Linked DNA regions of Homo sapiens. The protein of the gene in region 1 interacts with the protein of each later gene in a pairwise test. Each region holds a gene or a part of one and is shown in the gene's direction. Other genes may lie near its edges. The genes, in order: ACSS3 and LEFTY2.

The links.
Region 2: the proteins of ACSS3 (region 1) and LEFTY2 interact in a two-hybrid assay, tested with the Homo sapiens proteins (one large-scale study listed by BioGRID and IntAct).

The regions. Positions count from the first base shown.
Region 1 is NC_000012.12:81,084,566-81,088,375, forward strand, and holds part of ACSS3 (acyl-CoA synthetase short-chain family member 3, mitochondrial isoform 1 precursor), read left to right. Parts: intron 1-3,810. UniProt on the Homo sapiens protein: Catalyzes the synthesis of acetyl-CoA from short-chain fatty acids. Propionate is the preferred substrate. Can utilize acetate and butyrate with a much lower affinity.
Region 2 is NC_000001.11:225,938,421-225,942,823, reverse strand, and holds the start of LEFTY2 (left-right determination factor 2 isoform 1 preproprotein), read left to right. Parts: upstream 1-1,603; 5' UTR 1,604-1,683; coding exon 1,684-1,933; intron 1,934-2,821; coding exon 2,822-3,068; intron 3,069-3,223; coding exon 3,224-3,463; intron 3,464-4,403.

The DNA.
Region 1 (3,810 bases):
TAAAGAGGTGAGAGGTAGAAGCTTATGAAAGTTGAAGTGAAAGAGAGAAAGAAAGGGAAGAGAAGAGGAAAATAGTAAGGACTGAACTTTGGGAAAAAGTGGGAGAAAAAAAAACTATGGAAATGGATGAGACATTCAAAGAAAGAGGAAAAGAAAGAGCAAGATATTCTAGTGTCATGCATTGTAAAGGAGAGAAAAGATAAAAATAGTGGTCAAGGGCTCTAGAGATGCTTTGAGGCTATTGAAAATCAAAAAAATATCTGCTGTGACTCAGAGATTCTTGATGACTTTCTATAATATGATATCAATGGTGAGATAAGGGCCAAAGCCAGAATAGCACATTACAGAGTGAACTGGTATAGGCAAAAACATTCCATGAGGATATTCGACAGTGACAGGAAGATGAAACAGGATAATATATGGCAGTATGGTGGTATCTGGGTCAAGTAAAATAAGTTTCTTCCTCATTCCTTATTTCCTCTCCTCCCTTTAAGAAGAAATCTATGTTTAAATGCAGAAGTGAAGAAATTATGAAATAGGAATGAAGGGAATTTTGCTTGTTTTGAAGCCTACTGCTCAACAGGACTCCTTGTTTTTGCAAGTTGAACTTTGTGTGGTTTCTTATGTTAATTTTTTGCTTTTGCTGCTACAAGTTACTGAAAGAAACAGGTTGCAAAAGTCTCAGAATTGGTATAAAGAGTACTCAGTAGATCTGTTTGTTCTTTTTAAATACTACAGTGATTCTAGTGAGCTAAATATCTCAATATTTGTTTGTGAGTCTGACAGGGAGGATAAGGAAGCAGCTGAAAAGGGAAAAGATAATGAATATTTGTTGAGTCCTTTCTCTGAACTATCAACTATACAGTAGAGTCACATATTTCCATTTATTCCTTCCCCAGATGCTGCAAAGTTAGTATTATCATGCCTTTTCTACATATGAGGGAATTGAATCTTAAGGCCACACAGCTAGTTAGCAGAGGCTAGACCTGGGTTAGTATTAATAGCTCCAGTGGCTAAGCCCAGAATCTTTTCCTCCAAATATCAAGGGAACTGTTCCGAAGGCAGGTTGCCAAATCTTGGCCAACCTGAAAAAGATTTTTGGCTACTAAATTGAAGGAGACCAAAGAGATATGAATTAAATGCAAAAGGTAGTTTCTGAATATTTTCACCATAATTGATATTTTTGAGGACAAGTAAGAAGCCAGAACAGGATTTCAGGATTGGATGGTGGTAATGTGTCAATATTAGTTTCCTGAAGTTGATGGTTATAGTATCGTTCTCTAGAAGAATGTCCTTATTTATAACAATTACATATTAAATTATTCTAGGGTTCTTGGGCATCATGTCAGTAAATGTTTCAAAGGGAAAAAAAAAGTACTTTATCTTGTAATCGCAAATTTTCTGTGAGTTTGAGATTGCTTCAAAGGAAAATAAATACAAATATAATGGGGATTTTATGTATCCAGAAAGCAATTTAATCCCCCTATTGAACTTTGGCTCTTTGGCAAACAAATGCTCAGCTACATTAAACTGTTTGGGAAATTCAGTATTTGTCAGATATTTTTAAAATTACATTTAATTCTGGTTTGAAGGTGAGAGTGTTATATAAAGAGGAAGAATTTTTCTCCTTTTGACAAACTCTAAATTAAATGAATTTATTCATAGCGTTGTACACAGTAAAGGTATATTTAAAATATAAAATCATCATTATTTTATAGATTTAAAAATATTTTAAGAAGGTATCTGCTTGGCATGAAAAATTGCCTGTTAGAAATAAGGCCTCTCAAAATAACCTCATCAAGAAAGACCAGTTTTAAAAGATGGGCCTTATTTTATATTCTGAAGGTCAGCAGCTTGGTACTGTGCCGTATCTAATTTTCTCAGCCTGTCATGCTGCTGAACCTTCAGGACAGAACAGAGTGAACTACAGGAATGCTGCAATTACATAAGCAAGGATGGATTGCCTGGCAAATGGCGCAATCAATGAACAATGGAAATTCAATCGGCTGTGACTGATCAACTACTAGGTGTTGGGGGAAAATCCACACTCTTATCACCGCCTGAAAGGTGGCTTACTTTTCTTTTGTCATGCCACATATAGTATTAGTTGAAAGGACAAAAAAAATCCAGTGGTTGAAGTTGTTTGCTTGTTCTTCTTCTTCTTTTTATTTTTTTTTATTCTACTTTCATAAGCAACAAGCTGCAACTCCATGAGGGAGATCATTGCTTTCCACTGTGGTGTGACATTTGTAAGAAAAATGTGTAGGAGGCTAATGAATCTTTGCAATTATATATATGAATGTAATAACCTCTCTAAATTACAGTTTCAAGTATATGTGAATGTGGAGCTCAAATCCTTTATCTAAACTACGTGGATAGGGAACTTGTTATATTAAAGGTATTAATTATATTTGTTTTTGTCAGTGTTTTAGTTGAATGAGGTAAGGAACAGTGCATAGAAAGGATAGGTATTATTTTTATAATATCTTAGGAAAATTAAAATTTGTGAATTTTGAGTTTGAAGGAGTCCAATTGGAAATACGAGGATAGTAAAAAACAGAAGGTCTTTCAAATACTAAATTAGAGAGGGACAGAGTTTAATTATATGGCTTTAATAATTTAAAACATTAATTGCCTTAAGAGGGAGGAAAGCAATTAAAGTCTGTAGGTCTTTGACTTATGACCTGACTCTGGACAATAGGAATACCTTCTCTTAAGGTGTTTATGGTAGAATAACAACACTTGCCAAGTATAATCTTTCAAGGTGTCATTGCTAAGTGGATGCAGCAGTTAAGTAAAATAAATTTGGTAAGATGAAGAAGAAGGAGCAGGAGAAGAAGAAGAGCAGGAGGAGGAGGAAGGAGGAAAGAGGAAGAGAAGAAGAAGAAAAGAAGGAGGAAGAAAAAGAATGCTTAATTTCTACTGTAGATCTGGCCAGTATAGATATCTGTAGAAAAATTTAGTAAGACTAAAAAAAAAATTAGTCACTCCGTATTATTGTCCATTTGCTAAATAACTTTAATCTAATGAGTGCATGGGAGCTTAGAAAAGTCCACTTTTGCGCTAATCTCACTTTGCATTCTCTCCATACATTTTTTCTTATTTTCATAGAATTCCATTGATTTTCAATTGAGAGGCAAGTATTTTTCTATAATAAACCACAAATACCTAGACTGTGCCTTCCTCTAACTCTCCCTCCCAACTCTCCCTCCTTAAGTACAGATGAAATTTGCCACTCTTATCAATGGGATTTGTTGGATACCCTAATTTTGGTGGTTAGGAGGAAAAAGTATTGAGAATTAGTTAGTGGAGAAAACAAACTGATTTCTGGTTCAAAATCTTGGCTCTACTCTTTGAACAGTATCTTGGTCCAAATAATTATAATACGGAAGAATTATAAAATGCATACTGTGATGGGTATTACTATTTTTTGTGTTGTTTCTTTTCTCGTCTGTTCTCTTCTGCTAATATGTAGGAAGATTGGTCTTCCCCACATATACGTGATTATGCGATTAGCTTTGGCCACTGCAATAAGAGGAGCAAGGCTTTTCACTTAGTTAATTGCCAGAGCTTCAATTCTTAGTTCTTTCTCATCTACCATGGCCATTTGGAAGTACATGTAGAATAGAAGCAGTTTGGATTGCTAAGCAAAAACGTATAGATGACAATGTTTTGGGGAGTCTACCTGAACCCACAATGGAGTGGCGTGAGTGAGAAATAAACATTTATTTTTGCAAGTTACTGAGATTTTGCAATCGTTACCGTATGGCATAATCCAGCCTGTCCTTACTGATTGAGGGGTAAATAATA
Region 2 (4,403 bases), on another chromosome or scaffold:
TGCATCTGCAAGATGCACCTGAAACTGACACCTGCCTCCTAAGGGCTGTGTGAATACACATTCAGAGCTTAGAACAATGACTGGCACATGCACTCAGGAAATGTGTGCTATTATTGTTGTTGAGAGTTTTATAAAAAGCCACGACCTGGCCCGGCACGGTGGCTCATGCCTGTAATCCCAGCACTCTGGGAGGCCAAGGCAGGCGGATCACCAGGTCAGGGGATCGAGACCATTCTGGCTGACACGGTGAAACCCCATCTCTACTAAAAATACAAAAAATTAGCCGGGCGTGGCATGCGCCTGTAGTCCCAGCTACTCGGGAGGCCGAGGCAGGAGAATTGCTTGAACCCAGGAGGCAGAGGTTGCAGTGAGCCTAGATCGCGCCACTGCACTCTAGCCTGGGTGACAGAGTGAGGCTACGTCAAAAAAAAAAAAAAAATGCAAAAAGCCACGACCCTGTGAATGCAGATTTCAGGCAGATAATAATGATAGCAAACCCTTACAGAGTGTTTACCTGTCACTAGACACTGGGTGAAACATCCTGCATGTATTAATGCATTTAATCTTCACACTAACCCTATGAAGAAGACCTTATGATCATCACCCTCTTTCTGTAGATGAGGAAACTGAGGCACTGAGAAGTTAACTCACTTGCTAGCAGGTCAAACAGTTAGCAGATGGCAGTTCTCATATTTGAACGTGGCCAGTCTAAAATGTGTGTTTGAAGAGACACAGGGGGGCTCCCACCTCAATCTGCCCCCAGTACCTGTGGCTTTGGACAGGCCATGCCTTTGGGCAGCTCTGGCCTCTGCTTTCTAAGTCCCTGTCCCTTGTCTGTGTCTGGAAATGACCTGGGCTCCAGCTGAGTGCTGGTGGCATGAACCGGCCAGCCAGCTCACTGGGGAGAGCACACCCCAGAATAATTCTGCTGTCTGAAGGGAGGACTCCTGTGCTGTGGTCACGTGACTGCAAAGGCACTTGCTGAAATTGCTGTTCCTGGGACTCCTAAAGACAGTAGAGCTGCCAGATTTGTGTCCTGACCGTGTCTAGACAGAGGATGTCATGGGGGGAGGGCAAGGACGGTGCGACAACCCTGAGGGACCCCTGGTGTGGGGAGAGGCAGGGGGTGTGCAAGGAGTGTAGGTTGGAGGGAGATGACCAAGGGGCTTCTGTGAATGTGGCCAGAACCAGCAGGAAGGCAGAATCCTTCCCGCCCTTCCTTTATGATTTGCAGACCTGGACCCAGCCCAGCCTCCAGAAGAGACTTAAAGAGATTTAAGCAGCTGGCTAGCAGGACTTTGTTTTTCACAGAATAGACTCACTTTTTCATAGAACAGGGCTGGGGTAAGGCCAGGAAAATTCAACAGGCACTAAAAATATTGTCAAGCTGCTGACAGCACAGCCAGAGGCCCCAGGCCTGGGTGGCATCCAGACAGCCCTGTCCTTTCTAGACAGCCCCCTCCTCCAGGCTCAGGGACCTGTCTGGCTGTGAGCTCCCAGGAGGTCCCAGGGGTGTGACCTCCCTCCCTCCCTCCCTCCCTCTTCCCTTCACCCCAGGCCAGCCCAGGGCCAGCTATAAAGCTGGCCCAGCCTGGCTCTCAGCACACCCAGCTGCCTGAGACCCTCCTTCAACCTCCCTAGAGGACAGCCCCACTCTGCCTCCTGCTCCCCCAGGGCAGCACCATGTGGCCCCTGTGGCTCTGCTGGGCACTCTGGGTGCTGCCCCTGGCTGGCCCCGGGGCGGCCCTGACCGAGGAGCAGCTCCTGGGCAGCCTGCTGCGGCAGCTGCAGCTCAGCGAGGTGCCCGTACTGGACAGGGCCGACATGGAGAAGCTGGTCATCCCCGCCCACGTGAGGGCCCAGTATGTAGTCCTGCTGCGGCGCAGCCACGGGGACCGCTCCCGCGGAAAGAGGTTCAGCCAGAGCTTCCGAGGTGAGACCCTCCCTCCCTGCTGGCCCCGGTCCCATGGTCGGGGGCAGGCCGGTTGTGCCCACTCTGGAGGTGTCGAAGGGCCCCTGGCCTTTTGGGACTCTGTGGGAGGCTGTGTGAGGGCCACGGTCCAAGGAGCAGTGAGGAGGAGCCGGGCCTGGGTCCAGGGTCTCCAGCTGTGCACTGAGGCCCCCCTCCAGCCCAGGGGAGGTGCACCAGGCTAGACCTGCTGGAAAAACCAAGACTTCAGAGAAGGGGAGGGTAGAGGAGAGAAAGTAGAGCTGGGGGAGCAGGTGAGTGTGTGCCTCAAGGCACTTGGTGCAGCTGGACTCCCAGGGTATGTTTTCACACTGCCACTCTGGTCTGAGCCTGACCTTGAGTAAATGGCTTTAAAATCCTCTCTCCACCATGTGCTCATCTGGAACAGGGGTATGACTATGTCTTCGCCATCTCCCAGCACTGTGAACGTCAAAGTGAGTCCTTGTGGATAGAAGCGTGTTTGGATAACTGAAAAATACCTAAGTAGACTACCTGGGTTATACCTGGCTGTCAGGGGTGCAACTGGGCCTGAATCCTCCTGCAGCCTCTCGCCTCCCTAGCTCCTCAGTGCCCAGAGCTAGAGCCAGTGCCAGGCACCTGGGTGAGGATTCTGCTCCCAGCATCTCAGCTGAGGCAAACTTGCTAGCCAGGGTCCCACAGGCCCCCCTGCCTGCTGGATGGAAATTGTTACTAAACAAGGCCCAGATCCAAGGAAGATTTGTAAACTGGGTTTGCCCCAGAGATAGAACAGGGCCGGTGTCTCCTGGCCTGGCTGCCAGCTCAGTGGCCCTGCCATCCTCAGAGCTCCGCTGGAGTCCGGGGAGGCCCTGCTGACCCTGCTCTTGTCCCCAGAGGTGGCCGGCAGGTTCCTGGCGTCGGAGGCCAGCACACACCTGCTGGTGTTCGGCATGGAGCAGCGGCTGCCGCCCAACAGCGAGCTGGTGCAGGCCGTGCTGCGGCTCTTCCAGGAGCCGGTCCCCAAGGCCGCGCTGCACAGGCACGGGCGGCTGTCCCCGCGCAGCGCCCAGGCCCGGGTGACCGTCGAGTGGCTGCGCGTCCGCGACGACGGCTCCAACCGCACCTCCCTCATCGACTCCAGGTGGGGGTCGCGCGGGCGCGCAGGGCAGGAGTAGGAGGCTGCTCGGCCCGGCTTGGGGGCGGGGACGCAGGGGGCGGTGCAGGGTCCTCGGGGCCCGTCCCAGTCCCCGCCCTCAAGCGGCGCTGGGTCTCCGTGTCGTGTGTATCATGTCTCAGGCTGGTGTCCGTCCACGAGAGCGGCTGGAAGGCCTTCGACGTGACCGAGGCCGTGAACTTCTGGCAGCAGCTGAGCCGGCCCCGGCAGCCGCTGCTGCTACAGGTGTCGGTGCAGAGGGAGCATCTGGGCCCGCTGGCGTCCGGCGCCCACAAGCTGGTCCGCTTTGCCTCGCAGGGGGCGCCAGCCGGGCTTGGGGAGCCCCAGCTGGAGCTGCACACCCTGGACCTCAGGGACTATGGGTAGGTGCAGGACTGGGCAGAAGGGAGGCAAGCAGCCACTGAGTGGTCCAGACCCCCGTCCCCAGGACTGTCTGGGGGACCGGATGGTGGCGGTGGGCTAGGGGTAGGGAGAGCGCGGTGCAGACTGTCCCAGGATGCCAGCGATTGCCCACTACATGTCAGGGTTTCTAATGGCAGAAATTGTATTGTTGGCCAGGCGTGGTGGCTCAGACCTGTAATCCTAGCACTTTGGGAGGCCGAGGCGGGCTGGATCACAAGATCAGGAGTTTGAGACCAGCCTGACCAACATGATGAAACCCCGTGTCTACCAAAAATACAAAAATTAGCCGGGCGTGGTGGCGCGTGCCTGTAATCCCAGCTACTCAGGAGGCTGAGGCAGGAGAATCACTTGAATCCGGGAGGTGAAGGTTGCAGTGAGCTGAGATCACACCACTGCACTCCATCCAGCCTGGAGGACAGAGCGTGATTCTGTCTCAAAAAAAAAAAAAAAAAAAGGAAACAAAGAAAAGAAAAGAAAAAGAAATATTATATTATTCAGGCCAGGCGCAGTGGCTCATGCCTGTAATCCCAACACTTTGGGAAGCTGAGGTGGAGGATTGCTTAAAGCCAGGAGTTTGACACCAGCCTCGGCCACACAGTGAAATCCTATCCTTAAAAAAATAAATAAAAAAAAAAAGTTTTAAAGAAACGACAAAAAAAAAATTGTAAGGCCAAGTATGGTGGCTCACGCCTGTAATCCCAGCACTTTGGGAGTGGAGGCCAGCGGGTCACCTGAGGTCAGGAATTCCAGACCAGCCTGGCCAACATGGTGAAACCCCGTCTCTACTAAAAATATAAAAATTAGCTGGGCGTGGTGGCGGGCGCCTGTAATCCCAGCTACTTGGGAGGCTGTGGCAGGAGAATTGTATGATTTATTTTATTTAAAAATATCTTTGACAAT